Linked DNA regions of Homo sapiens: regions 2 and 3 are each linked to region 1. Evidence: fine-mapped QTL for protein levels in blood plasma. A gene starts in region 1. Each other region holds a variant in brackets. All regions are shown on one strand. Distances are between the middles of the regions.

Region 1 (10,229 bases):
ATCACTTGAACCCGGGCAGTGGAGGTTGCAGTGAGCCGAGATTGTGCCACTGCACTCCAGTCTGGGTGACAGAGCAAGACTCTGTCTCAAAAAAAAAAAAAAAAAAAAGTCTGTCCCTAGCAAAGCAGGTGAGGTGGGACAGGGGGAGCTACTTCCCTGCTCCAGCCCGAAGAGCACCAGCACGGGCTCCCCTTCCCCACAGGGGCTGAGTCACAGAGAGCCTGGTGCTGCTCAGACTCCAGATCCTTGATGATGCCCTGCAGGGCAGGGGCTAGTGTGAGCCAGTGGCGAGTGGCCTCACTCCAGGAAATTGCTCAGGGTGACTGGGCCTAGCTGCACCTGGGAGGGTGTGGCTGGTGTTGGCACTCCTCCCTGCTGGAGAGCTTCCTGTCCAAGCTTCCAACAAAGGCAACAAAGGCTCATCCTTGAGGCAGCCTAGAACTGAGTCACGAGCCCCGGGGTGATCTACCAAAGGACTTCAGCACCCAGTGCTGCCCCAGCCTAGGCAGCCACTTTACACACTGATTCGGCCCCTCTGACGCTAGCTGTTTACGTAAACCAGGTGGAAATGGACCCTCACCAAGGATTTTCCACATTGCACTGTTCCTCTCCTTCATCCTTCTCCAAGCCTCATCGCATCCCACCTCCTCCATATTATTCAATCCTGGCTCCCCACATTGTACCTTCACGGCCCCTGCATAGGGTGTCCCAGCCCACAGTCTCCCTCCCTGCAGCCTGCCCTTCGCACAGTGGCCAGAGGATCTTTTCAAAATGCAAACCACTGGCTCCTCCAGCCTAGGCACGGCCCGTTACTGGCACACACTGCTCAGGCTCTCTCCCTCTGATCCAGCCCTTGCCAGAGGTCCTGTGCCCCGGCCAGTCCAGCCCACCTCAGACTCCTTCCAGTTCCTGAACATCCTGAAGCTCTGTCTTGCTTCTTTGCCTGCTCTTTGCTGGGTTTCCTGTTTGGAATGTCCTTTCCCTGCTCTATCTGCCTGCGGTAGGCTGAATAATTACCCTTAAAAGATATCTATATCCCAGCCCCTGGAGCCTGTGAATGTTAACTTATAGAACAACAACCAATACAAGGTGGTGGTGGTGGGTCTTTGCAGATGTGCAGATGTGATTAAGAATTTTGAGATAGGGGCGATTATTGGGAATTATTCCAGTGGGCCTTGCATGCAGTCCTGTATTCTTACAAGAGACAGCCAGAGGGAGATTTCACTATACACAGAGAAGAAGGCAATGTGAAGATGGAGCAGAGAGAGCTTTGAAGCTGCCAGCTTTGATGACTGGAGTGATGGGACCACAAGCCAATGAATACCAGCAGCCACCAGAGGCTGAAAGGGGCAAGAGATGGATTCTCCCTAGAGCCTTGAGAGGGAGCACCAACCTGCCCACACCTTGATTTCAGCCCAGTGAAACTGATTTTGGACTTCTGACTTCCAGAACCGTAAAAGAATGAGTGTTTATTTATTTATTTATTTATTTAGAGATAGGGTCTTGCTTTGTTGCCCAGGCTGGAGTGCAGTGGCATGATCTTGGCTCACTGCGGCCTTAACCTCCCAGGCTCAAGCAATCCTTTCACCTTAGCCTCCCAAGTAGCTGGGACTACAGGCGCGTGCCACCACACCCAGCTAATTTTTTTGTTTTGTTTTTTTTGCAGAGGTGAGGGCTCACTATATTGCCCAGGCTGGTCTCAAACTCCTGAGCTCAAGAAATCCACCCACCTTGGCATCCCAAAGTGCTGGGATTACAGGTATGAGCCACCTCACCCAGCCTAAGTGGGTGCTATTTTAAGCCACCAAATTTGTAGAAATTTATTACAGCAGCCACAGGAATCAAATACACTGCCCAAATCCTGTTTCTTGATCCACGGACAGGTTCTAATGGCTTCCCACCCACCCTCAACCTTCCTCATCATTGAAACCTTTGGGAACTTTATCCCTGCGTCCGGAATCCATCATTTCCTTACTGCTGCTGATGAACAGGTTAGTATTGCACGCACTTCTTTGTTTTATAATGATTGTTTAGTTCAGTTTTTCCCCAAAGACTGAACTCACAGAAAATGAAAACCTTATGTTTTCACTTTGGTATCTCCGGCACTCAGCCCTGGGCCTGGCTCCCAGTAGGGTCTCTGCAGCATAGCACTGCCGCATTGCACAACTCCACAGGCACCATTCACACCCGATGCTATGGACTGTGAATCTCTAGAGCACGATTCCACAGGACCCACCCTCCCTCCCTTCCTTCCCTCTCTTTTTCTCTTTGTCTTTCTTCCTTCCCTCCTTCTTCCTTTTTTCTTTCTTTTTTTCTTTCTTTTTCTTTCTTTCTCTCTCTATCCCTCCCTCCCTTTTTTTCTTTCTTTTCCTTCTTTTTCTCTCTCTCTCTCCCTCCCTTCTCTTCTTTCTTTTTCTTTCTTTCTTTCTCTGTCTCCCTCCCTTCCTTCTTTTTTCTTTCTTTCCTTCCTTTCCTTCCTTTTTTCTTTCTCTTCCTTTTTCCTTTCTCTCTTTTCCTTCCTTTCTTCCTTCCTTCCCTCGTTCTCTCTTTCCTTCCCTTCCTTCCTTCCTTCCTTTCTTCTTTCTTTCTCTCTCTGTCTCTTTCTCTCTTTCTCTCGAGTGCAGTAGCACAATCTTGGCTAACTGCAACCTCTGTCTCCCAGGTTCAAGGGATTCTTGTGCCTCAGCCTCCCGAGTAGCTGGGATTATGGACATGTGCCACCACACCAGGCTAATTATTGTACTTTTAGTAGAGATGGGGTTTCACCATGTTAGCCAGGCTGGTCTCGAACTCCTGGCCTCAAGTGATCCATCCACTTTGGCTTCCCAAAGTGCTGGGATTATATGCATGAGCCACCGCACCCAGCCAGGATACCATTTTCATGGAAGACACTGAATCATGCTTCCTGGAACTGGGTAATGCTCCATCTCTAGACATATTTATCAAATAAATGAACTATACTCCACTCTCCTCCTCCAAAACAAAAAAGTTATTCCCATAGACAAAGGGTTCCTAGGCCTCCCTAGGATGATGGGCACCATGAGGTGATAAAAGTGGTCCCTTACGGGGATCGCTTTGGGGAAGTAGATACTCTGATTTGGATGTGTAAATTCCAATGATATCTACAAAAGGTGTATTATTCTCTCTCTTTCCTGCTATCAAATATTAGAGGCAACTTAGAAGGCAAGGGAAATTATAAGTTAGAAAGGGACAGTCAGCACAGGGGCAAGGCAGGTTTGAGGTTGAGAGCAGAGAAGCAGGACATAAAGTCCAATCCACTTGCTGCACACTGAATCCCCAGATGATTTGGAGCTGCCAAAGCACGAAAGTGCAGACACACTTGGTTACATATTTCTCAATATCTAAGAATGAACATATGGCCAGGCACAGTGGCTCACGCCTGTAATCCCAGCACTTTTGGAGGCCGAGGTGGGTGGATCTCCTGAGGTCAGGAGTTCGGGACCAGCCTGACCAACATGGTGAAACCCATCTCTACTAAAAATACAGAAGTTAGCCAGGCATCGTGGCGGGTGCCTGTAATCCCAGCTACTTGAGAGGCTGAGGCAGGAGAGTCACTTGAAGCCAGGAGGCGGAGGTTGCAGTGAGCCGAGATCATGCCATTGCTCTCCAGCCTGGGGGACACAGCGAGAGTCCGTCTCAAAAAAAAAAAAAAAAGGATGAACATATTCGTTCCTTAGACGAAACCAAAACTTTCCACTGCTTCTAGGTCTTCATGTCTCACAACAGACCCAAGGACAGCTCCGCAGCCGTGGTGGGTGAGGGGCTTCCTCTGGAGTCCCCCGATGGCACTCAGGGCCATGCCCCTGCACTGGGACCCAGTGAGAGCCAATCCTACGGTGCATTAGAGGAGACATACGCCAGTGTGGCCTTCAGACAGTTCTCTGAAAAACCTCTCCAACATGGCTCCTTCTAGCCTACACCTCTTTTTTGGGCAGGAATTGTCCCCAAACTTAACATACAGTCTGGGGCTGGGAAACTGGCTGGGCTGCCTCCTAGAGGCTCTTTGTAGCAGCATCTTCAAAGCCATTCCTCTCACCGTCCTCCTGAGGCACCTCTTCTTCCTTTTTCCAGTTGTCCTCCCCATACTCTTCTGAGATGATTCACTTAGTCTTATACAGAAGAATGAATTCATCAGTGTATTTTTAGGATTAGAATTGCTGGCAAGTGAGAGAAAATTCAGAGAAACAGTGTCCTAAACAAACAAAAAGAGACATTTTCCCATCATGTATAAGTCTGCGTGGGCAGTCCAGGGATGACGCTATACTCCATGGGGCAGGGACCCATGCTTCCTTTAACTTGTTCCTCTGCTGTGGATGGCCTCTGTTCCCATGTTCACTTCATGGTCCAAGAAGGCTGCTTCAGAGGCAGCCATCAGATCTGTATTCCGCCCAGGAGAAAACAGAAAAGGGAAGGAGAGCATGCTTGACACCTTTCTGAAAGTGCATGTACCACTTCTGCTCATGTGCCACTGGCAAGACCCTAATCATGTGGCTACGCGTGGCTGTAAGAGAGGCAGGGAAAGGTAATCTTTATTTTAAATAGCCATAAGCCCAATTGAAATTTAAGGAATCTCTTACTGAGAAAGAGGAAAACAGATGTGATAAGTAAACAGAAGTGTCTGCCCAACCAGTCGGCAACTAAAGGCTTCAGCAAAACATTTCCTAATGGGAAGGATGGTCAGACTCAAACAGCAATAAGATATAATTTTACTTGCATCAGCTGGCAAAATATAAAAGGCCCAACACCAAGTCATAGGAGGATGTAGAAAAATGGAAATGCTCATAACTGCTGTTGGGAGTGTAAATTACTATAAGCCCTTTGGAGAGCAATTTGCTTAGAGCAATTGCTTACAACAATTCCTGAGAAAGTTGAAGATGTTTATACCTATAATCCAGAGCTCTACTTCTAGAGAAAGCCTCACACATGCACTCAAGAAGACAAGTATAAGGGCCAGGCACGGTGGCTCACGCCTGTAATCCCAGCGCTTTGGGAGGCCGAGACGGGTGTATCACCTGAGGTTGGGAGTTCAAGACCAGCCTGACCAATATGGTGAAACCTTGTCTCTACTAAAAATACAAAATAAATAAATAAATAAAAAATTAGCCGGCCTGTGGTGGCGTGCGACTGTAATCCCAGCTATTTAGGAGGCTGAGGCGGGAGAATTGTTTGAACCCGAGAGGTCGAGGCGATTCTCCCTGCCTCAGCCTCCCGAGTAGCTGGGATTATAGGCACCTGCCACCATATCCGGCTAATTTTTGTATTTTTAGTAGAGATGGGGATTCACCGTGTTAGCCAGGCTGGTCGAGAACTCCTGACCTCAGGTGATCTGCCCGCCTCGGCCTCCCAAAGTGCTGGGGTTACAGGCGTGAGCCATCGCGCTTGGCCGTGAGTGACTTTTAAAAAATGAAAAGACTCCATCAAATCCTCCCTGACCCCAGTTTCCTCTGTTGTGAGCAGTAGAGAAAGGTAAGATTCCAAAATTCCTATTTTTCCACCATACTGGGTTGAAGGGATCTGTGGAGCCACCCTCTGGTAGAGGTAGAACCTTCGAAAAGGGCATTTTTAATCCACAGGGACTCCTCGAGCTCGGCTGGACCTCCGTGGTGCCGTGCTGTGAGACCATCCATCACTCAGGCACTCAGCGAGCCCACATCGGCCCCCAAGAACCCTGATGAAGGTCTTCCTGCCCCCTAGACAGACTTGGGGAGACGGACACCCCAAAAGCGAGAGCTCTTTGAGGTCAAACAGGTGCTCAGGAGCAGGGGTACAAGCAGGCCATCATCTTTTAGTGCTGTGAGGAGGAGTGGGGGGATGAGATGGGGACGCAGGAGGCTGCTCGGCTCCAGAGCCTGCTCCACGGTGGAAGGTGGAGGAGAGTCCAGGGTCCCACGGTCAGTCCCTGCGTGGCCCAGGAAGGTTTAATTCTTTTAAAGAGGAACACTGGACACTTCCCGATATTTTCTTGGTCCCCAGCTCAGGCCGACCCAAGTTCTTGCCTTCCGCCTAGGGAAGACAGGGGAGGACGACGCCATCTTTGGTCTCAGGGCCCAGGTGCGAAGGTCGTTTGGCACCATCTCTCCTGCCTGCCAGATGTGGGCAGGGCCCGTCCGGTTCTTCCCCTTTGCTCTCTCGGCCGTTTCCCCTACACCCGCAGGCCTTCCACAGCTTTTTGAACTGAGGCCCAGGGCCTCGCAGGGGATCTCGAAGGAGCAGCAACTGCACGGTGCTCCTCAGATCCGCGTGCCCGAGGTCACCGGGGAACAAAGAAGTTACTTATTTTTCCTTTTAGCTCAGATGAAGAGAGAGGGCGTTGTCTTCCACAGAAAAACGCTGCGAACTCCGCCCCCGTCCCCCTTTTTCTTGCAGCCCTTCCGTGCGGGTGCAGCTGTTTAAACTAAGGCCCCAAGTCTCCAGCACTTTGTGGAGTGCAGGAAGAACGCGAGCGTACGGGAGAATCTGGGCCGGCGGGGCGCAGCGAGCCGCATCGCAGCTGGAGGACAGCCGGGGTGTGTCTGTGTGTGTTTGCCCGTCGGTTGAAGGCCCCATCGCCCCCGGGTCCCCGCCCTGCCCCAGAAAGCGTTCCCCAAGAGAGCTAGGAGTCCTGCGCACCTGGAGCGCGCTCCGCGTCCACGCCCAGAGGGCGCTGCACACTCGCGCCCGAGGACTGCCTGCCCCCCTTCAGCCCCTCTCCCGGGCTGCGCCTCCGCACTCCGGGCCCGGGCAGAAGGGGGTGCGCCTCGGCCCCACCACCCAGGGAGCAGCCGAGCTGAAAGGCCGGGAACCGCGGCTTGCGGGGACCACAGCTCCCGAAAGCGACGTTCGGCCACCGGAGGAGCGGGAGCCAAGCAGGCAAGAACCTTAGGAGCGGGCCGGGGGTGGGGCGTTCCGAAGGGGCCGGGAGGGGTGGCTGGGGGGCGGGGTCCTGGGGGGTGTGGACTGGGGCTGGCCGGGAGACCTGGCGGAGCTGGGGGTGGGGGGCCAGTTTTTGCAACGGCTAAGGAAGGGCCTGTGGGTTTATTATAAGGCGGAGCTCGGCGGGAGAGGTGCGGGCCGAATCCGAGCCGAGCGGAGAGGAATCCGGCAGTAGAGAGCGGACTCCAGCCGGCGGACCCTGCAGCCCTCGCCTGGGACAGCGGCGCGCTGGGCAGGCGCCCAAGAGAGCATCGAGCAGCGGAACCCGCGAAGCCGGCCCGCAGCCGCGACCCGCGCAGCCTGCCGCTCTCCCGCCGCCGGTCCGGGCAGCATGAGGCGCGCGGCGCTCTGGCTCTGGCTGTGCGCGCTGGCGCTGAGCCTGCAGCCGGCCCTGCCGGTGAGTGCGGCCGGCGGCCAGGCGGGGAGGCGGCGGGAAGCCGGGACTGGTCACCCGCGGATGCCGGCGGGTGCACGTGGAGGGGGAGGGGGAGCGAAGACTTCCCTTCTTCCCGCGCTAGCCCAGCGGGTCCCGGGACGGTGAGCCCCGAGACCAGGGCTCCAGCCCCAATTTCCTCCGCTGTCGGTGGGTGCCGCACCGGTCCCGCGCTGGGGAGGGTGGGGGGCCGGGGCCCCGCGCTCAATTATGTAAAACGTCTCCACATCTGTCGGAGCCCGCCAGCCCACAGCGGCGCCCGGGGTCGCCCGTTCCCACCCTCCTCGCCCCGGCCACCGCGGCGGCCGGGCCCCCGTCGGTGACCCGGGGGGATGCAGTGACCGCGGCCACAACGCCCCCCCTGCAGACCCTAATTCAAACCAGACCCGCGGGCTTGCGCCCCAGCGCCGCCGAGCCCGGGCGCCCCGCCCCTTGCGCCAGGGCAAGTTTGGGCGCAGCGCGGCCGGCGCGGGAGCGGGAGGCGGCCGCGTTGGCCCGGGGAGCCGGGCCAGGGCTGCGTGGGGGGCGCGGGCGAGCGTCTGCAGGGCCCTCGGGCTTGCCGTGGGCGGCTCGAGGTGAGCTGAGCCGGCCCGGCAGCGGGAGGTTCCGGGAAGTTGGCCTCGGAACGCTGGAGACCCGGAGGAGCCCAACTTCTGGGCTGCTGAAGTTGAGCTGGCCCCGGAGGGCGCGTTCCCGTGCCGGGCACGGCCGAGGCGCAGGCGCCTTCCACGCGAGGGGACCCGGGAATGGCCTCCCGCTCCCCGGCTCGGCTTTGTGCTGAAGCCGCGCGGAGGGAAGGCGGGTCCCTTGGCCCGCCCAGTGCAGCTGGGAGAAAAGAGGGGCAGATGTGGAGCTCGGGGCTGTAAGAGGCCTTTGGGTGGGATGCAGCATCCACCTTCAGCGGGGCTGACGCTCCACTAAAGAGGGACGTGGCCGACAAAGAGCAGCCTGAGGGTCCCCAGAAAGTGGCTCTCCCGCCCCGGCCACCGGCCGCTAGCCCGCCTTCCCCAATGGGGGCGCTTTGTTCTCGGCCCCTGTAACCCTTTCCTGGGAACAGCCCCGTAACGCCGGCCTTGACGGGGGCTGGGACCTGGGCCGCAGCCAGGTGTCAGCGCGGGCCGCCCGGTGCCCGAGTCTGCCGCCCGAGTTCGCCTCCCCAGCCCCCGCGCCCGGTGCTGGCGTCCCGGGGTCCCTCCTGCGGGCCGGCTCGGCCATCCCCAGGGATGCAGAGGGGAGGTGCGGAGCCAGGGGCGCTTCCCCTTCCGGAAGTGGCGGTGTCTCGCCACTACATCTGGACAGTTCGACTTCCCCAGCTCTGGCAAAGGGAGGCACGTGGGCAGGGAAGGGGCGGGGGCGGGGTGGGCACTCGGGTTCTCCACTGCTAATGTGGCATCTGGACAAGTCTCAGCAGCGCTGACCCTCCGTAAGCGTTGCCTCGTGTAGTAGCTGCCAGTTATTGAGCGCTTTGGTTTTTTTTTTCTTTACAGAGTCTGTCTCATGGGAGATGAGGTAGGGACAGTCGTTTCTGAGACCGATGTGTAAAGCGCCCTCCCTGCTTCCCAGGTGACTCGTGCTTCCAGACATTTTCCGGTCCAGGAGAGGTCCCTGTGCCTATTGAACTGTGAATGGGCTGGACTGTGAGGGGTATCTGGGAGCACGGGGAGGGCCATGATTTCCGAGCTGGGTCTCATGCACTCCTGGCTTTCAGGTCCAAGAAGCTGCTCTCTAGGGTGGTGGTTTCTGTGGAACTGAGACTGTGCTTGGAGTCTTCGCTCCGAGTTTGGAGAAGAGAATGGAGCTGGGTGCCTTACCTCCCTGGACCGCTGGGCATCACCTCACTGCCCCATTCTCGCACATGATGGGGCCTCAGCAGGGGCGGCTGAAGTTGGGTCCTCCACCTATTTCCGGCTGGATTTAGGAGGGCTGCTGGTTCCCTTGCCTGCCTGGGGTAAAGCAGACATTCCAGAGCCCTGGGATCCCACCGCACCCGTTAATGCTGGGGAGGCAGGTGGAGTTTGGGCTTCCCCGTGAACTGCCTTTCCTGGAGTTTTCTGTGGGCTGGGGCAGATGCTGCAGTGTGAGGCATTATTTCTTGCCCAGAAACTTGGACATAGGGCCCAGGAGGCAGGAGAGTCTCAAAAGGGGAAAGGAGGGAGACTCCCTGGAGCTGCAGGGAGGGAAGGCTTCCTGGAGGAGGTGCTTGAGCTGAGCCTGAAAGCCCCACCTGAGCTTTGGGGTCAGACTCTGGCTTGAAGCTTAGGTGTTCTTTTTGCTTTTTCTGATCTTACAAAGATTAGTTTGTTTTCTCTTTCCCAGTTCTGCCCTCTTCCTCTTACAGTGAATGTCCATGTTAGGTTAAAGGTGGGGGCATGCACTGCCTTCCCAAAGCTCTGATACCCCTTTCCTAAAAGAAATCAGGCAGCTGGGATTTGCTTTAAGATGGGAGAAGGTATTTGCAAGTGGCAGAGATCTGACCCTCTCTGAAAGTTCACTCTGGCCCCAGTGGGAAGCAGGTCAGAAACCCCCTGGGGACCAGGGAAGCAAGGAGTGACTGAATGGGTGAGGGGAGGCTGCTAGGAGAGGAGGTTGCTCAAAACCACTCCCAAGAGACTAAAACAGGTTTGTCTAAAAAGGTTTCTCTCTCTCTTTCTCTCTGTGTGTGTGTGTGTGTGTGTGTTTACTGTGGTCTTTTGTTTCTGCCATGTAAGAAAAATGGCTTGTTCTGGAATAGTTATTTGCTATTTTTCATTCTTTCTCTCTTCTCTTTCTTGAAAGGCATAAAATCCCTTTTGCCCTAATTATGGGGGCTAGTAGAGACATTTTCCCACAGCCTGGCAGAGAGGGTATGGGGGGAGGCACTAGC
Region 2 (10,229 bases), 39 kb after region 1:
CTTTTCCAGATGTCCTATGAGTGGAATCATACAGTAGGAAGCCTTTTGAGTCTGGCTTCTTTCGTTTAGGAGACTGCATCTGAGCTCCATCCAAGCTGTGTGCTTCAGGAGTGTGTTCCTTTTCATTGCTGAGTAGTGTTCCGTGGTGTGGAAATGATGACTTTGTAACCACTCAAAACTAGAAAAATGCAAGTGCTCTTCAACTGTGAGCATTTCCTTATCTCTAGATTCATAAATCGAAACACTTCCTTTGTCCACCTATGAATCTTGATTTAGAATCCAGAAAGCATGGTCTGTTTGCCTGAGGCTGCGAAGTAACCTTGGAGAACCTGCAGAGGTGAACAGGCCCAGGGCCAGAGGGCAGGAGGACACTAGCTCCAGGGACCTTGGGCTGACTGTCTGGCCTTTTCTTGGGCAGGCCTAGCCCCAGTCCACATGGTGCCTCTGCAAATCCCCATTCGGGTGGGGTGCAGCTCAGTTAGCAGACAGCACCTCTGGCCAGTAGGAGAAAGTCACCCTGTCCCCCAGGCCTGTGAGCCTTGCACCTGGACAGCAGGATTTCAGCCCCCAGCTTGCTCCTTGACCTCAGCAAAGCCTGCACAGCCACGTGGACAGTTTAGGTCTGGACTAGATTTAAGGCTGAAAAGTCCTGAGACCTGCAGACCCAGGAGGCAGCAGATGGGCTGGCTGCCCTCAGAGCCTCAGGGCAAGCCTGCTGGGGTTCCCCTGGGCTGCCTCAGAGCCCCCTGTGGGCAATCTGGACCTCAGAAAGACCTTTCCGGCGCAGCATCTTTCTTCTTTAAATTAGAGACAGGGTCTATGTTGCCCAGGCTGGCCTCAAACTCCTGGCCTCAAGCAATCATCCTGACTTAGCCTCCCAAATAGCCTCCCAAATAGGGATTACAGGCGAGAGGCCCTGAGCCCAGTCCAGGGCAGCATCTTCGATCCCAAATCTGCAGAGCCCTTTCGAGGACAGAGCCTGGGCCATCAGCTGGGATACCTTCTCTAAGGGCGAACAGCTTCCCTCTGTGGGGCTTTTAACCCCCGTGTTAGCCCTTAAAGGGAAAGTGGGCATTGGGGAGCAGGAGACATGGTCCCCCTTCAGAACTCATGGGGGAGGTGGGAGGGCATGGTGGTCCAGAGAAAAACTCTGTAGCCAGATGTCTGGGCTCAAAATCCTGGTCCTGCCATTTTCCAGCCTCGTGACTAGTGCACAGGGTGTCTGTTGCAAGCCTGGGTGAGGTATGACATGGCCGCACATGGGCTACTGCCACCTCTCAGCACCTGATAGATGTTGTTGTTGGACCAGTGACAGGGCCACAGACTGAGACGGTGTGGAGCCCCAGGGTGACATCCGTTAACCAGGGCTGCCTCCTTCTGATCCTCAGCTTCCCCTCACCCATCAGATGTGGCCCCAGATGAGATGACTTCTCGTACTTCCCAGGATTCTGCCAGGCCAGGGTGACCAGGTCTGGTGAGAACCAGGCCGGGGGGCCTCAAGGATGCAGACTCCAGCCCCATCCTCCTGATAGGTGCTCCCTGCAGCCTGACGGCCAAGGAAGAGGGTCCACACTGGGCCCCTGGGTCCCCAGTGCAGGAGCAGCCTGGCCTCCCCTCTGGGTCCAGCCCAGCTACTTCTGAGGGTGGAAAATATCCCGTGGCACGAGGGCTGGGCTGAGTTCCAGCTCATGGCTGCCCGGACAGAGTCCACAGAAGAAGAAAGACTTTTACCAACTCTTTTTCTCTATGTGTTGCTCCAGGGACCTTGGGCTGACTGTCTGGCCTTATTCTCAAGGCTATATAACATTTTTATTTATTTTTCTCTTTGTAAATGAGGCTGTTTTGCCCTATCAGATGTGCTACCACTTGAACTCATTAGAAAAGACTGGTCGCTTGATGTGAAAGGTAAGGCCTTTCAGGCCTAAGAATCCAGACACACAGCAGGGCTTCTCGCAGGGGGAACTTAAGCATGCTTTGTGCATGAAATGGGGCACAATCCCTGCCCGCCAGGGGGAGCTTAGCTGTCCCTCAGATGTGCCTCTCCAGTACAGTGCCACACAAGGCTGACCAGCCAGGGCCGGCCCCTCCCCAGAGAGCGCTCACACCCACAGTGCTCAGGGGTCTTCACCATCCTTCCCTCATCGTATTCTCACACAAACTCGAGCTGTGTGGTGCTGCAGGAGTTATTCTGTTTCACAGGCGAGGAAACAGGTCTGGAGAGGATAAGGGTTTGCTCAAGGCGGCAGGCCTGGATCTTCGGGACTAGCTGGATATGATTTTGTGGCCCCTGGTGGAGACTGAAGTGGAGACAGCTTGAGGGGGCTGGCCTTGCTACTCACACACTATGCGTCCGAGCCTGACAGGCAGCCCTTCTTCCCAGCCCTGTCTGTTCAACTCCCTCCTTGCCTGCACCCCAGACAAGGGGAATTTCTCCCAGGAGCCAGAGGCCAGGCCGGGAGCCCAGAGCTGGCGCTCAGCAGTCTCTGCCCGCCCTGGCTGAGGGACTGCGTGAAACTGTTGCATCTCCTTACCCCTCCATTTCCTTATAGGGAAAGCAGGAGGGCCGGTGCCCACCTTCAGGCACAGATGAGACTTGGAAAGAGATTTAAGAAAACGCAGCGTGCCACTAAATGTCAGGCACCAAGATTCTGGTTAATTATGAATAAGGACTACCATTTCCAATATGCCTAGAATGTGCCAGGCTCTATCCATGCCTACCCTCCGATTTCAGGGACACAGAGTAATATAGTGGCAGGAGCAGGGGCTTTGGGGTTAGACCCCACTTTACTGGCTGTGTGACCATAAACTCCTTAGAACCTCAGCTCTGTCATCTGTGAAATGAACTCATCTCCTAGGGGCATTAAATAAAGTAATGGGAGTAAACTCTTCAGCATTTTGGTTTGGGCACTTTGCAAGCATTGCATGAATAGTGGCTATGACTCTGATGGTCGCAAAATCCCTGACAGGCTGGAATCCCCACCCTCTTTTCGCAAATGAGGAAATTGAGATCCAAACTGATTCTTCATGCAGCTCCTGAGTGGCCAAGCAGACGTGCAGACCCAGGTCTGTGCCGCTCCTGTGCCACGGTTGCTTCCTGTTCATCCATTCTGTCCCAGAGGACACCTGGACAGGCGTGGGAGAGGCTCTTCCAGGCTGGAGCTGCCCCAGCAAGCCCCGAAGCGGTTCCCAGGCATGGGAAAGGGTGGCCTCCCTGACACGCCTGGGTGCTGGCACCACAGTTACTAATGATGTATCCTGCAGGGAACCATGGTCATGAGAAGACAAACAACCAGGGGACAGATGGCAGCTCATTTCTACCCAGCCCCAGGCAGCTCCGTGTCCCTATGAGCCAGTGGGCAGGTGGGGGGATGTCACTTGGAATATGTCAGATCCAGAAGTTGGGGAGCAATTCCCTTCTCCCATGGTGGGAGGAGCATGGGCAGTGCCCTCTGTCTCCCAGGAAGCTGGCTACATAGGCGGCGCTGGCCTTTGCTGGGGAAGCCCAAGAGAATAGCTCCAGCCCTCCGAAGTGGCTCTTCCCTTGGAGCCCTGTGCCCTGAGCACGTCCCTACGTGCGTCTCACTCCTTCAACACAGTTACTGAGGCCTCCTCTGGGTCAGGGCCTGGGGACCCAGAGATATCAGGAGCACAGCCCTGGCCTTTGAAGAGCCCACGGTTTTGTGGCAAGGACACACATGCATTATTAAACAATACAGATGTCCAAGGGCAGTGCTGTAGAAACAGATGAAGGACACCCCATCCAGCTTGAGGACTTAGAGAAGACTGCCTGGAGGAGGAGGCATGTGAATGAGGTCTTGTCAAACGAGCTGGCCCGGCAAAAGAGGAGGAGAGAAGTGTTCTTGGAAAGTGCCAGGTGCACCCAGGGACCCACAAGATCCCCCCACCCCAGTGTGCAGTATCTGTATTGGGGGTGGAAAAGCAGTGAGAAGTGAGGCTGGAGGGACAACTGGAGCCAGTAAAGGAGGGCTGGTTTTCTAGGTCAGGGGCACAGGGTTGTGGCTGATGGTGAGGGAGCCGGCTCTACTGGCTTTTGAGAGCTGACTGTGCTCATGAGTTCAGTGACCTCACAAGGTAGTTTGAAATTGGCCATGATGGAAATATTTGTACCATGGACATTGGCAAGTGCCACAAATCAGAGCCAGTTGTTAAAAAAAAAAAAAAAAGGAAGGAGGCAGCCTGGGTGGATTCTAAAGTAAGGGCATGGGATAATTAGCTTTGTTCCTTAGAAGGATGTCCTGACTGTTGCAGTATAAAGAACAGGTGGAGGGGAATGGGCTTGGAGACGAGCTGGGCCCTAGGTGACCTC[C/G]TGGAGACGGCCAGAGGCTGCCCAAGAAGGGTCTGGGTAGTGGGAGAGGATAGGCCCCTGCCTCCCACTGTGTAACCTGACTCCCACTGTGTCGGGCTCAGCCTGGGGGTGGGGCAGAGGATTAGGTGGCTCTTTCAGCCTTCCTCAGCTAGAGCCTGAGAATCCCAGTAAAACCCTTAATGAAAAACACCTGGGGCTCTGCCCCCGAGCCAGGCCTAGAGATGGGGATGGGAAGGGGATTAGGGGATCGGAAGTGAGGGTGGAGAGGGACTCCACTCCATCCATTCATTTGTTCATTCATGAACTCTTGTTTCACCCAGCTCCCTGCGCCTGGCCCTGGGAGAAGGCGGAGCGGAAAAAAGAGGGGCTAAGGAAGCCATAGAAGCACCGCACAGGGGCCATAGGGATCCCTGAGCCACGGCGCCTGCCTCATGTACTGATGCTTACTCTATGGAACCTTCCAGGCCAGGTCACAGTGCATCAGAGTCACGACTAGGCTAGGTCCTCGGTCTCCCACGTCTTCCCCGCAGAATCGTGTGTGTGTGTGTGTGTGTGTGTACGTGTGCATGTGCAAGTACATACACACATACAGGATTGTAGTGAGGGGGGTGTTGATTATAAGAATACAGGAAGGGTGGAGGCTGAGATCCACCCACTGGAGTGGTGGAACTCAGCCTTCATCCTTCCTGCCCAAGACATATTGCAGATGGAGCATGTGAGATCCCAAAAAAGAGACTTGGTGGATTCACAGCCCACTGGGGCTTGGCCTGGTCCGGGCTGGCCTCCGGGCCAGAAATGACCTGTGGGCCTTTGAAGCCTGGAGAGTTGGGGTGGCTGTGGGAGGGGGCTGGGCTCCAGGACCTCTGCCCCACCCTTCCCTGGAGGGAGGCACTGAAGAGGCAGGACCTGCCTCATCCAGGCAGCATTGCTCTCTGGCTTCTCAAGATGGCTCAGGGCTGGCCTGGAGGTAGTCATGGGGCTCCTGGGCACTGTGCTGTCTGGCAGCGGACTCAGGTTCCTGGCTGGAAGTGCTAGTGGTCACCAAACAATTGGGTTGGGATTTAGAAAAAGGATGTTCTGTTCTGGGGAGAAGCTTATTTGTGAACTCAGTTCCCACCTGTTGTGCACCTTCCGAGCCCTCCTCCCCACCCAAATTCTCCCCAGGCACAGTCAAAGGGCAGGCAGGGGCACAGGGAGCACCTCTGTGCATGTTAGACACAGCGCTCCCTTGGGGAAGATCCCCTCTGGACAGGCACCTGGCTTGGTGAGTGGGCATGGCTTTTACTGAAATTAGAAAAGAGGACACTGCTTCAAGCAGACACCGCATAGGTGCAGTGGCCAATCTGCACAGACACACCTGTACCCTCGAGCTCGTCCTCTAGTGGCTGGCGGGGAGGGCTCCATTTGTACAAACACAACTATTGCTTCCACACCCTGTCTGCCCTTCCTCCACCCATGGGCCGCTCCATTCCCCATCCTTCAGGTAATGGACATCTCTTAAAGGGATGTGAGGGACTGGGGCCTGGGGTGAGTGTGCTATGAAAGCAGAAATATTCACACTTCAAGGGCTACGGGAGGTGTGGCCCCCTGCTGACAGCAGCTTTCAGCAGGGGAAGCTCCCACAGGCCTTCTGGGCACCATGTGGGGAGGGAGGCCGGGTATCTGCAGATGAAAGGCACAGGACCGGCTGCAGCCCCAGGAGGCAGCCCAGGAGGCAGCCTAGCCAGCCTTCCCAGGGCTTCCCTCCAGGGCCAGGTGGTCCCAGCCTGTCTGCTCCCCTCACTGTGTCTGTGGTGTATCTACAGATGCTCCAGGGTGGAGGAACTAGCCTTGCCAGCCAGGCTGTGAGACACAACCACCTTCATTTCAGCCCTTGAAAGTGGAACAGCCTTCCCAGCACCCTGGCTCCTTCTAGGGCAAGCCCTCTGGAGAAGGAGTGCAGAGCTGCAGGCCAGCAGGCCCAGGGTCCCGCCTGGTATCTTGGGTGCTTTCCTTCCCTCCTGGGGCCTCAGATCTCCTCATCTGGAAATCAAGTTCAGAAAGGTGCAAAATGTACTGGTAAGAGGCAGAGCCGGTACTTGAACCCAGGACTGCCTGACTTCAAAGCTTCATCACAGCATCACAGGTTCTTCTAGGAGCCAGGGCAGACAGATGCTAACGAGGACTCATCCTCATGGGATCCTTCAGGATGTGGCTGAGCCCGCAGCTGCTTCATGTACATGGACTTCAAGAGGTCACAAAACTGTGAGCATTCTTAGGGTTTCTGAGGGCCACCCCCTTGAAGTTGAGGTTCAGAGAAGGGGAGTCTCTTGCCAGCCGTGGGGAGCCCAGACTCACTTGCTCCCAGCCAGTGCTCTTTCTGCTGTGCGGAGTGGCTTTCTCGAGCCCATCTAGGTTAGATGCCGCAAATGTATAGTGAGTGGGGGCCTTCCCCATGGGAGGAGAATGTCCTCTTGGGGAAGCAGAAACAGGGACGCCTCTGGCTCCAAGGCCGCAGCGATCACATGATATCTGCAGTGATCACCTGATATCTGCAATGAGTCTGTCACCCCTCCCTCTGCCCCTAGTTACTGACTCACAGAACAGTCGTTAGTTCCTCAAAGGGACAGGAGCAGCAGCCGATGACTGGCAGAGAAGTTACTGGGAGTTACTGGGAGCTCTCCGGTGGGTCAGTCACTAAGACCAGGCCCCAGGTTTGTGCTGGGCTAGAAAGAGCTCAGCAACAGTGACCTACACAAAGGTGGTCTGTGAAACCGAGGGCAGGGGTGAGCCCTCGGGCAGGAATTCAGGGGCCTCTGGCCTTGTCAGCTCCCTGAGGCCAGGGGGGATGGGGAGTGGGAGCCAGGGTGGAGGAACCATGGACTGGCCTGAGGAAGCAGTCCTGCCTGGAGACCCTGCTGAGGGCCAACATTGTACAGCCCCGGCTCCCTCCAGGGACCCTGCCCTTGGAGATCACAGCATCCTGCCGGGAAGTCACATATCAGACCTCTGGGGCTTGGCTACCTGTGAGCCAGCAGGGAACACTTGGTCAGGTGTCAGGGAGAGGCTTTCTGGCTGGCCTGGAATGGTGGGTGGGATTTTCCCATGGGAAAAGCCTGGAGAACAAAAAAAATAGGAAAACCAGGTGAGGCGGGGAGGTGAGTTGGTGGAAGGGTGGGAGCTGAGGCCTGGAGCCTGCCTCTGTGGGAGAAGGGAGGCTGTGGGCAGATGCTGGTTCCTCATTTCCCTGTTCCCCTGCAGCACCCGCAGAGATGGCTAAAGCAGGCCACCCTCAAAGGGCACAGTGTGCTCTCATGAGTCAGGGGCCAGGCTGGGGAGCACCCTCTGAGCCCCGCTTCCCAGTCGGCCTTCCAACCATTCCCTCCCAGCTTGAGGCCACTTCCTGCAAGAGTTAGTCAGCTCTGCTCACATGCCCGGGCTGGGGGTGCTCAGACCGCACAGTGAGACAGCTGTCTTGGGCCCCCTGGACGCTTCCTTTGTGCTGCCCAGGAGAGAGCCTGCCCTCTTACCCGCCACCCCACCCCACAGCTCCAAGTCTGTGGCACAGCCTCCTGGGAAAGGAAGTCCTCGGGCCACTCAGCCGCTCCGCCAGCCACCTGGAGGAGCCCCGGAGATGAACTGTGGGCTTCTCCTCACTGTCTCCTCCTCCTCAACCCTGCAGTTCTGGCCTTTGCTTTTCCCAGTTACTTCCTCAGCAGCTGCGCTTTGATTCCAAGACCATCAGCACGCACAGGAAGGGCTTCCAGGAAGAGGCAGGCCCTGAGCTGGTTCCTAAAGTGCCAAGAGGACCTGTCTAGGACTCCAGAAACTTCCAGGAGTCAGGGAACCTGGGGCAGAGACAGTCCTGAACGCTGTGAATGGGGCAGCTCGGCCTCTCCTTCCCCGCCCTCCAGTCTGACCCTCAGATTCTCTTCAGGCACAGCTGGAAGTGGGATGAGGACGACAGCAGGGGGAAGAAGGCAAGACTAGGTCGAGGAATTCTGTCTGTGGGACAAAGAAGTTTATCTGCCTGGTGGGGTCTCTGGGTGCAGCGAGCTACCTGTGAACATGCTAGGGGGATTTAGAACCCAGTGGGAATGACACTGACAGGCAGGGAACAGAGAGAAGATCGGGCCATTCTTTCCTCATTGCCTCCGCCATCCTGAACACATGGGCATTCCTGGCTCTCATACCAGCCACGTGCCCCCTCTCGGCTTTTCCCTGGAGCCCCTGGTGATTTTAGGATGTTTTCTCCCCATGCTGGGCTGCTGTGGGGGACGTAGGGGGAGGCAGCCCTGGGGGCCCAGTGCATACAGCTGGGGGTTACGCCAAATGCACTGAACAGAGGGACACTGGAGACGGGACTCATGACAGGCCCTCCCCCACCCTGCCAGTGAGACCGATGACTTCCTGAAAAGGGGTTACATGGAGGGTTGGCAACATGGAACATTTGATGTGACCCGAGAACTTCCTGTTCAAATGACGCCTGGGGCTCTTGACCTACTCCCGAAAGTGTCATGTGCACAGTCGGAATGAGCCCTAGGAAGCGGGACTTCTCCAAGCAGAGCTGCTTGCAGGCTGTGCCCACCTTGGGCACCGGGATCCAGGCTCTCCTACTCCAGAGGGCTCTTCTGAGTTGCTGCCGCAGAACCTGCTTGGTGGCCTGTGGCTCACGACGTCAAAGGAGGAGGCATCGGGAAGTGGATGTTCCCAGCAAGAGGGTCTTCTGATGTCCCCCACCCTCCTCAAAGCACCAGGGAAATTGGATCTTAAAAAGGGCCTTGGGAACCCAGTGCTGAGCCCTTCAAGGTAAGTAAGGTCAATGACAGCCATGGCCCGAGGTGAAGCCAGAGAGTGTTTGCTTTCCTGGGAGAAGGCAAACTGAGCAGTGACTCAATTGAGAAATATGCCATCGAGTGCTTGTTTCTGAAACAACAATGTAATCAGAAGTCAGTCCAACTAGGAATGAGCAGTGAGGCCTGAGGAGTTAAGCCCCCACCCTCTGCCACCTGTGGTCCCGCCCCAGCACCAGGGCCCACCTCCGAGGAAAGCATAGATCTGACCTCCTGCCCCCTGAAAGCCCCAAGGAATGGATGGCTAAAGGAAGATCTAAGCCCAGTGCCTCCCCTATGGAAGCACTCCAGCCTGTTCAGCTTTCCTGGCTGATGGGCAAAGGTGTTTTTTGGCTGGCAGCTCTGGCTTTCTTTAACTGCTGGCACCTCCAGGGATGGAGTCCTCCCAGACCTCTCCTGTGGGTGCAGCAGGAGACCCAGGAACTCTAGGCTGAGTTCATGCATCTGAGAGCCTTGTTCCTGCATCCGAAGGGGAAGGACAAGGCCAGCAGCCATCTATTCACTGACCCCTCTCCATGGCTCCCAGGCCATTCCTGACATGGCTTGTCTGGGAGAACTGGATGGATCCTGGCTAAACATGGTAGAAAATCAGAGCTTCAGGAAGGCTGGATATACATGTGCATTTATCCACCTGGATGTTTGCAGGCACTGCCTCAAAGTTATCATTTCCATCCCAAACACCAGCCTCTCCCCCTGGGTATCCTCTCTCAGAATCTCCATCCCCTCCATTGCCTGAGCCAGAGATGCAACTGCTCCTGGAGATTCCTCCCTCTCTGGAATGCTCCTGGTTCCACCTGTTGAATGTCTACATATGTCTTGGTTCCAGCTCTTCCTTCACCCTCATCACCACTGTCCTGGTTTACTGCTTCATTTTCCTTCATCAAGATGATAGCAATAGTCTCCTAGCTGGTATCTTTACCCAGTCTTATGCCCTCTATCAATCAGGCAGGTCGAATTCAAATTTGGGTAATTTGAGAAGAGTGTACAAAGATGTGGGCAAGGGGCAGGGAGACCCCCTTGAATCTCTGAGGTGAGCTGGGAGAGTGCTGTGACTTTTCCAAAAAGATGCA
Region 3 (10,229 bases), 55 kb after region 1:
ATAGGTGAGACGCTGGTGGGGCAGGAAAAGTGCGTGTGATGCATGGTGTTGGTGCCAGACAGGTGTATGGAAGATATTAGAGAGATCCTAAAAGGAGTGAAAAAGTTGTAATCTCCTCTCCCATCTATCCTCTACACACACCTCCAGTATTATTTTTTCTATCTCAGCCAGTCTAGCTATTCAATGATACATGGTGGTGGTGTTAGGGAGGTATGTGGTGTTCCTGGAAGACATGAGAAAGATACACAGATCATGGAGAAGGCAAAGGTTCTAATCTCATCTTCAGTTTGTTCTCTACACACACACTACCGTTATCATCTTCCTGATCTCAGCCAACTTGGCTGTTCAATGATGATCAAGTTCTTAGGGTAAACATTAGTGTCTCCTAAACCCCAAAGATAAGATGGGAAAGGGTCTTCAGGCCCACACCCTTGCCACAAGGAGATATGTTACAATGAAAGTAAATTTCAGACCATATTCTGCCACAACGACATACTTTTATTAGCAAATAGTCACAAAAATAGTCATTTGGCCCCTCCACTAAACTTGGGGCATCACCTTTCTCTACCTCTAGGCTTGCTGATAAGCACTCACATGGGAAGTCCAGTAGCTCAAAGATATGGCGATGTTCTGTCAGCGGGACCAGCCGAGCTTCTGGCTGGGCCAGGAGACAGAGTCGTCAAGGCCAAGAGGGGACTCAGAATGAAATGGGAATAGACCCAGAGCACCAGTCCCTGCTTGTCAGGCACCCAGGTTTGCTGGATTCTTCTGTCTTGTTCAAGCAGAGACATAGGTGCCTAAACCATCTTTCCAGCTGAATATAGTTCTTGAACATCACTCACTTCACCAACAACAAATTACCTGGATATTGTTTATGCTAGTTAATGAATTTTGGGGAGCAGATTTAAATAACTATATTTGAAGCCTTTGCTAGCCACTTCTAGGGTGTGAGTTACTTTAAGTGTTAACTCATCAACCCTAGAGCATACATTACAATTAGCTCACACATAGAGACACTATCTCTTCTGTTCATACAATGGAGCTTTAAAGTAAGTCACAGACATTACACTAACCTGGGGTGTAACCCTTGGTGCTATTGACATTTTGAGCCAGAGAATTCTTTGTTGGGGTGGGGGGCAATCTGAGCATTGCAGCCTTTAGCAATAAAAACCAATACTTGGCATTTATCCAATAGGTAATAGTAGCATATCCCCCCCTCCGCCACCAAGTTGTGATGACCAAAAGGCCACCATACCTTGCCAACTGTCCCCTGGGGACAAAATCTCTCCAGGTTGAGAACCATTGAACTAGAGTGACCATATTTATTGTCCACTCTGGGACACTTTCTTCTTAAACTTACATATCAGAAAATGTTAACTAAACACAAACATAGGGAGACTAGTATCATCAACACACCACCACCTCATGTATCCACCACTAAAACTCCATAATTGTCAACTCAACCAATTTTATTTCGTCTCTACTCCCACTCACATTCGGCCACCACTTCCCCTTGCTAGATTGGTTTGAAGCAAATTCTAGACAATATTCATCTATAAATATCTAAGCGTATGTCTTCATTTTTTAGATTTTTTAGTTGGCACATAGTAATTGTACATGTTTATGGGGTACATAGTGATGTTGAGAGGCATATAATGTGTACTGATCAAATCAGGGTAATTGACATATTCATCTCTCAAACATTCATCATAAAATATGGAATGCTTCACAAATTTGCATGTGATCCTTTGTGCAGGGGCCATGCTAATCTCTGTATCATTCCAATTTTAGTATATGTGCTGCCAGAGTGAGCACTAGATCGATTGATCTATCTATCAATCAATCTATCTATCTTTAAAAGATAAGAACTGTTTTTTGTTTTTTTTTTTTAGATGAGGTCTCACTATGTTGCCCAGGCTGGAGTGCAGTGGCTCCACTGAAAGGAGTGAAGCCTGAATTCCACTGCACTCCAGCCTGGGCAACACAGTGAGAGCAGTGGGATCCAGCCTGGGCAATGTACCCAGAGCAGGCGCAATCCCACTACTGATTGGCACAAGAGTTCTGACCGGCTCCGTTTCCAACCTGGGTTGGTTCCCCCTTTTTAGGCAAACTGGTGGTCCCCTGCTCCCAAGAGGTCGCCATATTGATGCCAAACTTAGTGTGTACACCCAATTGGCATAACGCGCTACAGCCCAGAATTCCTGGGGCCAAGTGATCCTCCTGCCTCAGCCTCCAGAGTAGCTGAGAATACAGGCATGCACTATCATGCCCGACAGAACTCTTTTTTTGTTTGTTTGTTTTTTGAGACAGTCTCGCTCTGTCCCCCCAGGCTGGAGTGCAGTAGCATGATTTAGGCTCACTGCAACCTCTGCCTCCTGGATTCAAGCAATTCTTGTGCCTCAGCCTCCCGAGTAGCTGGGATTACAGGCATGTGCCACCTTGCCTGGCTAATTTTTGTATTTTTTAGTGGAGACGGGGTTTTGCCATGTTGGCCAGGCTGGTCTCGAACTCCTGGCCCCATGTGATCCACACGCCTTGGCCTCCCAAAGTGCCGGGATTACAGGCATAAGCCATCGTGCCTGGCCCAGAATTCTTTTTTTTTTTAAATGTAACTATAATATTATTATACTTTAAAAATTAAAAATAATTCTTTAATATCATAAAATATCCAGTAGGTAAAACCAGGATACTCTTGAGAGTGTAATGGGCAATCAGTTTACTAGGAAAAGCAGGCATAAGTTGGAACTGTCCAGGCAAACCAGGACTGTGCCAGGCATATGGAGCATGTGTTTTCCTTAAATATAACCCTTTCTAATGCATGTGTCTGAAAAGTCATTCCCCTGCTCAAAGCCTCTAAAGGCTCCCAGCACCTAAATACAAAGTCTCGACTCCGCCCAAGTCTCAAGGCCCTCTGTGGTGTGCCCACCACTTGCTCCTGTCTTCTCCTCCAATATCCTCCTGATGTGGTTCCAGCTGGTAGCTGCATCACCCAAGGAATCTGGTGACTGCCACCACTCTCTGATGCTCAGAGATGTTGCTGCATGGGGCATGGCCCTGTGCAAGCTGGAGGCACTGGTGGGCAACCTGGATATGGCTTTTTTGTTCATTTGGATTTTAGCTGTCCCTCTAAGTTACCTGAATTTGAATGTTGGCAGAAGTAGGATGTTAGGGTTTGCCATGAAAACAGTTCTGGGCTAGAAGTGGCTCAACCTGGCCTGATTTCTTTTTGCAGGGGAAAGGGGTCTCTTCCTTCTTACCTTTCTTTTTTGAAACATGTATCCGGGGCGTACTTTGCTCTTGAGAGACTAAAACTGCTAATTCCCAAATGCGGAGGGCACCTGTCTATTCTCAGCCATGCCCAGGGCAGGGCACAGAGCTGGGGCTCCACCATGGTGTGCAGAGAGAGCTGCTGGGAGTGTGGGTGCCATCATCCCTGCACAGACAGACGACAGACACACAGAGCTCGGCCTGTTAGATGAGTGTCAGCTCCACTGCTTCCCCAGGGGCTTCTTGGAGCCCAGGGCTCCCGCTAAGGATCAACTGCCTTCTGTGCCTGGAAGAAGCAGAATTTCTTTCCTCTTTATAATCTGAGCTCCACAGTCAGGTTTGCTCAGTGACTCCTGTCTCTAAGTCCCTGCAAAGCTCCTGAAGGTTGAATTTGGGGACTTCTGGCCGAGTACAGCTGAAGAATGAAAGAAAGCCATTCTGCTTGACATGAAGCTAACAAATAACTAGAAAACTTTTCCAGGCCCTGCAAGGATATAATCCTTGGAGCTGTCTCAGCCTGCATGCCCGGGGCCAACTGGCCATGCAGTTCCTGGTCATCAACCACCAGGATGCCTGCCAGACAGACCTCACCCGCCTGCTGTCAGAACCCCTTTACTCCCTGCATTAGCCAGGCCGCCATCCATCCACTCAGCAGAGAGGTCTCGTTTGCCTGGGTCCCCACCCAGCCCATAACAATGCCCAGTACCTGGTGCAGCTTCGTGGTGGCCTGCTGCTTGCCCTGTCCTATGGTGGGTGCTCGTTAGGGCCCTGGGGATCCTTTCCTGCTAGCACACCTTCATTCATTTGCTTATTGAGGATCTACCATGTGTGCCGGGCACAGGAGTAGGTGCTGGGACACATTAACACCAACAACAATTCCTGCTGCATCACGGGGCTTCCGTCCCAGCAGATCGAGCACCCAGGGCAACCATGATGAATTTTCATACAGGAGTTGGCTTCTCCTCTCTTCCCAGAAGCCCTGGGATCCTTTTGCAAATTCTTCTCCTCTTCCCAAGGGACCTGGTTTGCAGAGTAAGGGGCCTTCACAGAGGCCTGCCCAGGTCAGGCCACAAAAGGTTGCATTGCAACCTCACCCTGGGCAATGTTCCCAGTCCCTCCACCTACAGAATAGATCTGTCAAGTGGCTGTTCTCTGAGGAAAGGAGATGGGGTTCAAGATAATTTGCTATTTCCACTGGAGTGCAGTGTATGTCATGCGTGTGTGTTGTGCGTATGGCAGTGGGGATTTAGGCTTCTATGAGCAATATGGTGAATTCTGTGAGGATTTTTATGTGGCATCCAAGAGGATTCTATGAAGCTTCTACATGGATTTCATTAAGATCACATAAGGATTTTATCTTCATCCACAAGAAGTAGGCATGGGTTCTATAAAGATTCTAAGAGGTCTTACTTAGTGTGTGAGCAGCTGAAGCCTTGAAGTGTGGGTGGATGAGCCAGTGCTTTGCTTTCAGTTGCACCCGCCCAGCCAGAAGTGAGCTCTCGCCCCCACTTCTCTTCCCCTATAACCTGAGAGCATTTCTTGTCTGCTGGGCTCTTCTTTTGCCCTCTACAGAACCAATTTAATGAAATGAATAAAAAAAGGAATAAAAGGAAAAGGGCAAACAGCACATGGGGCCCTTGGCAGAGGACAGCCTCCGACATGAAAGACTCCGAGGCACATCAAAGATGCCGAGAGACAAACACACAGCGCCCGCCCCTGCCTGCACCATCACTGTGACTTTCCAAGCCCCAGCAGCTCCCCAGAGCCCTCCTTTTCTGAGGCTTAGGGATGCGGGTAAGTGGGCCACGGCCCTGGCAGCCTGAGAAGGTTCAGCTGCTCCCACTTCTGCTGGCTCCTGGGCAACTCTCTGCAGGTCCCCACAGGCCCCATTCTCCACCCCGGGTGGTGGAGGACAGCCACACACAAGCAGCCGGAAAGAAATCAGAGCGTGCTCAGGCCTGGGGCTGGGGTTGGAGGGGAGAAGAGGGAGGGCCCAGACCTGGGAGTGGGCAGGGCTCCTGTGAGTTGGAACCTCAAGACCTTCCTCCTCCAAGAAACACTTCTCGGCAGCTGGCTCCATTCCGGCGGGCGAAATTGTTGTTTTTCATTTTATCTGACTTTCCTCTAGGGCCAGTGCTGTCCGGCAGATTTTTCTGCATTGATGAAAATGTTCTTTATCTGCACTATCTGACACAATAGCCTTTAACCAAAGGTGGCTATTGAGCGCTTGAAATGTGGCTATTATGACTAAGGAACTGAATTTTACATTGTACTTAATTTTAATGAATTTAAATATAAATTATCAAATGCGGCTAGTAGCACCTGTGTTAGACAGTGCGGCCTGTGAACAGGGCTCTTGTTTGATTCGTTGGTGCCCTCCTCTCTAAAACTGCAGCACCCCCAAGAGGGTCTGGCCCAGGCTGGGCTCAGCAGGCTTCAGGCTTTCTGTCTTGCGGGACTTCCTCACAGCTCACACCTGTCTGCAGTGGTGGTTTTTGTTAGTTGGTCCCCACTGGGCACAGGTCACCAGGGCTGAGGGTATGCCTAGGTCTGAGGGTGACTGAGGAGATCCAGGCTCTAGCCTGAGCATAGCCCCATGCTTTGTGTGTGACCCTGGGCAGGTCTGCCCCTCTGCAGTGAGGGAACAATGCTTGACTATGCCTGAGGTTTAATGACACCCCCCGACCATCCCCCCTCAATCTGCCCCAGTGGCCTGGGATCAGGGAAGTAAAG[C/T]CCACAGGCATTCTGGGTCAGCGTCCTTGTTTCTCCTCTTCTCCCATCAGGCCCTCCAATGGAGATCATTATCCAAATGATAATGATTAACACTTGGCTTTGGGGTCAGACTAGCTTTAAATCTCAGCCCCACTGCTTACTGCCTGTGGAGCTCCAGTACCTTTGGCTGTGTAGAGTGGGGGTTACATTTGGTGTCAGAGGTCCTGGGTTTGAGTCAGCGGTGTGCTAGAGACAACTTGTACACACTCATGAGAACAGCTTGTCCTATTTTCGAGGGATTTTCTGAGCCAATTGATAAACACAATTGTTTAATAAAACAATTAAATTATATGAAATTGTTAAATGCCTCTATGTCATCTACTACATGTGTGGTTCTCGAGGGCAAGGATAAGGTGGGAATTATCTATGACAGTCACGCCAGGGACTTTTCCAAACTCTCTTCCTCCTGCAGTTCCGATGCACCTGTTCCTCCTTCGGGTGTGAGCAGAAGGAAAAGAGGGCAGGGACCACTATGCCACCCCTCGCTGTGTCAAATGCAGAGACTAACAGGCCCCACGAGGCCTCTTGTTCTGTTGTGTGGCTGCCCTGGGTACCTGTCCAGCTGCCCCTGGGGCTGTGAGAAGGCTGGGAGCTGCTGTAGGGAAGTCTGGATTCTGGGTCTCTCCATCCAGAACCCTGGAGTCCGCCCATGTCAGGAGCAGGAAGGAAACACTTGTTTTCCTGCACATGGTATGTATGGTGCAATGATAAAGCCAGGAGGTGCTGGCTGACACAGCACAGCATGGGACTTCCACAGCAAGTCCCCAGGGCACTGCCCACGGCAAGCCCTTCTCCAAACCCGAGGCTGAGTCGCGCCGCGCACTGGCTGCCCTAAGTGTGGTGGCTGCGCCAGGGGCAGGCTGAGCTCACAATTGGTTAGCCCAGCCTTATATTTTTGGTTATACTGTTCTGCTCCCCCACACACATACAGACCCAAGATTTAATGCACGTGCATTTTTTTTTCTGGGAAAATTGTCTATGGATTTCATCAGATGCTCCGAGGGACTCTGATCCCTTTATCATTGCACTAAATGGTGACTAGAAGGAGGCCTTGGCCTTGGAGCTGGGAGATGTGGCTTAGAATTCTCATCAGTTCTAAATTGCTGCATGAACTCGACAAGCCACTTTATTTTTTGCTCTCTAAAATAAGGCAACAACCTTGTCTTAAGTGGTGATTTAAAAACAGGCTCACAATCGTGTTCACATATCCTTTGACACGCTTCCCATGAAAAGATGGAATTCAATTGTCCTTCCTTCAGTATGGGCCAAGTTTGATGAGACACTGCTGATTAATAGAGGCGGAAATGGTGCTGCATGACTCTAGGGTCTAGGTTAGAAAAGGGAATGCAGCTTCGGCCTGGCTTGCTCTTGCTCAGGACGCACACCCCATGAGGCCTGAGCCCACATAAGAGGTCCAGCTACCCTGACACCGCCATGCTGGAGGGAGGCGTGGCTGCAAGGAGATAGACAGAGGAGTGTGAGGCACCCCAGCTGTGCCTGCCCCCTGCCATCGGGTCTTCCCACCCCAGGCGCAGGCATGTGAGTGAATGAGCAGCTTCGGATGATAATAGCCTCCAGCCTCCAAGCTGCCCCAGCTGAAGCCAAGTGGAGCAGCAACAACTGCCCGCCCAGCCCTGCCCACTTTGCATATTCATGAGCAAAATAAATACTGCTGTTTTTGTTTTAAACTCCTAAGTGTCGGGGTGGTTTGTTACGCAGTGTTAGGTAATATCTGGGCACCCTGCCTACCCTCAAGGGAAGCTGTAAGCATCACTTGATGTAATACCTTTCACATGCCAGGTACTCGGCAACACTGAATGTATGGGACCTGCAAATCGACCAGGTGATGGGGTAACTGGGACCTGATGGGACTTCTGCTTAGCCATCTAAGTTGCTAGGAGCTTTCTGGAGAAGAGGGTTATTTGCCCCAGCCCAGTGGGTCCACAGGTTTCCTGGAGAGGGCGTGTGTCCCTGGACAAGAACCAGTCCCTGTGGGGGAAGACCAGATAGGGAGGTGTTCTTTTTCCTGTTGGCTATTGGTCATGACAGGCGTCCCAGGAAGAGGTGGGGAGCGTGAGGAGGAACTGGGAGCAGTGGGCCGAGGCTGGGCTGGGATAGCAGTGGTCCCAGTCCCAGCAGGCCCTGCAGCCTGGCCTCTCTTCAGACCGCAGCCTCGCTCTGTGCATTCTGTTATCCTCGCGCAATCACCCCGACTATTTACTGCTCTCACTCCCTCACAGTCCAGGCACTCCTCCAGGGAAGGGGCTGTATTCAGCACAGTTTGAAGCCCCAGAACTTAACACACAGCCTATAGGGAGTTAGGTGTCCAATAAATGTGTGTTGAAAGTCAAACTCAGTGCATCTCGCCGAGTCGCTAATGCCCTGGACCAAGGGCGGGCTGGCTGGGAGGCGAAGTGGCCCCATCGAAAGTGACTCTGCAGGCGTCAGAGGGACCAGTGTGGGAGCCCTTCTCCCTGTGGGGAGTGGAGGCCTAGAGGGCAGTGCTGTCGACTCAGGCTGAGTTTGGGGGTGGTCCCTGTTTTGGTTTGTACCCCATATGCCATGGCCAAATCCCTGTAGCAATAACTTGCCCAGTGCTGCCGGTCCTGTGGGATGAGGGTCCCACTCCCGGGGCCCTGCTCCTCAGGGCCAGATCCCTGCCCACCAACCGGGCGAGGCTCCGATCCCCTGCCCCATCACAGCTGACTGGCTGAGGCCCCTCCCTGGCTGGTCCTACAGCGCTGACTGCACGTTCTACCCACTCATGACTTCTCCCACAAGGAAGTTTGCCCAGGTGCAGAACTCAGAGCCACATGAAGAGGCTGCAGAAGAAAAGGACGACTCGTCTGGGGCTCTTAGACCCTCAGGAAGCAACCCAAGCTGCCCTGTGCCCACACTCCAGCCTGAATTTCCTATCAGACACAGAGCTTTACAGCAGGAAGACCTGCCCGCCAGAGCCTCGGGGCCCGGCCGCTCCATCTGCCTGCCCTTGGCCTGGATGTCTGCCCGAGCAGATGCAATTTAACTTGCTGCAGGAGGAATATCTATAAAAAGTTAACTATCATCATAAAAGCAGCCTGTCCACCCAGGGCTGGGCTGCTGGAGGGAGGCCCAGCAGCTGGGTCAGTCCCCACTTTGGAGACCATGACTCTAACATCCAGACGTCTCTTCCGTGCCCCCCACTCATCTCAAAAAGATGTCTTGGCCCCTGATGTCAGAGCTCCCCGATGGGAAGCAGGGTGGCCTCGTGCTGCGTGTCACAGCCATCCCTCAGAACTGTCCATGCCATGCAGGGAGGACCCTGAAGCCCCGTGCTCTGGAGAAAGGACCACATCATGGGGCGGCAGGTGTGGCCCAGCGCCCTGCAGCAGAGGTGCAGGCTGAGCTGCCTGAATGGGGCTTCTCTCTGGGGCCTTTGAGTACGAGAGAAAACATGAGAGCAAGGAGGGTGGTGTTCCACAGGTGTGTGGACCGGCGGACAGCTATCTCAGGCCTTTGTTCAAGGGGGTATTAGGGGAAATGGCTCCCACGGAGGAGGCTTTGTTAGTTCGCCCCAGTCCAGCACTGCCTGACCCCCGAGTTGCTAGAATTGCCACTAAGCTTTTAGGGAGGGGAGGTTCCAGGGGTGGCATTCTTGGCTGGGGAGGGTTTATCTCTCAGCCAAATGCTGGTCACAGCTGCGGTGGCCCTGAAGCACCCTCCGTCCTGTGCAGTGCTCAGGGCACCCCCACCCTACCCACCAAGATGGGAAAGGTAAAGATGGCAAGGTGAGCTGTGGCTGGCTCGTGGAGCTCACTGTGCCCATCTTCCGGTATTTGGAGGGCTTTTTTTCTTTCTTCCCACACTGCCCACATCCCCTTTTCTGGGCCTGGCCAACCCCTACATCCTTGGCACACAGCGATGGCCATGGATGAGCACTGGACTCCAGGTGAAGAGAGAGAGACTCAGCTTCATTCCACGCTGGCCTTGTACTGACAGGGGCTGGCTTGGCGATGTGATGGACACATTCCTGGGATATCTTCTGTCTGTAAAATCTGAAGTCAGACTCCCTCGTTCTCTGGGCACAGTCAGAGAGAGGATGGATAGGACATAACAGCCAAGGCAGGGCCTGAAGAAGAGGAGCAGAAGGCCTGAGTGGCCATGCCTGGATACAGAGGGAGGCCTGAGGGGAAGGCTTGCTCCCCATCTCA

Which allele goes with the higher level. Positions count from the first base shown, and alleles are read on the strand shown. Strength reflects both the effect of a copy and how common the allele is. Not every link is listed here.
For the plasma level of the protein whose gene starts at base 7,002 in region 1, allele G in region 2 goes with a lower level than allele C (weak association).

The links. PIP is the posterior inclusion probability: the model's chance that the variant is causal. The UK Biobank Pharma Proteomics Project read protein levels with antibody pairs (Olink). The fine-mapping took linkage between variants from a reference panel, not from the people measured, so its PIPs are less certain.
Region 2: its variant is fine-mapped to the plasma level of the SDC1 protein (UK Biobank, PIP above 0.99).
Region 3: its variant is fine-mapped to the plasma level of the SDC1 protein (UK Biobank, PIP above 0.99).

The regions. Positions count from the first base shown.
Region 1 is chr2:20,221,903-20,232,131 of GRCh38, reverse strand. SDC1 (syndecan 1) reads left to right here and starts at 7,002. Exons shown (of 5, transcript NM_002997.5): 1 at 7,002-7,330. The coding sequence starts at 7,265. RefSeq lists enhancers at 5,675-6,354, 6,355-7,034, 8,794-9,300, 9,301-9,808 and silencers at 6,586-6,965, 7,026-7,445, 7,486-7,545, 7,566-8,025, 8,436-8,635.
Region 2 is chr2:20,183,297-20,193,525 of GRCh38, reverse strand. No RefSeq gene overlaps it. Among named protein-coding and RNA genes, the nearest start is that of SDC1, 37 kb to the left of the region's middle. RefSeq lists an enhancer at 5,499-6,117. The variant C/G (reference allele first, on the strand shown) is at 4,328.
Region 3 is chr2:20,167,391-20,177,619 of GRCh38, reverse strand. It overlaps the pseudogene RN7SL140P and the pseudogene RNU6-961P. Among named protein-coding and RNA genes, the nearest start is that of SDC1, 53 kb to the left of the region's middle. RefSeq lists an enhancer at 6,363-7,212. The variant C/T (reference allele first, on the strand shown) is at 6,001.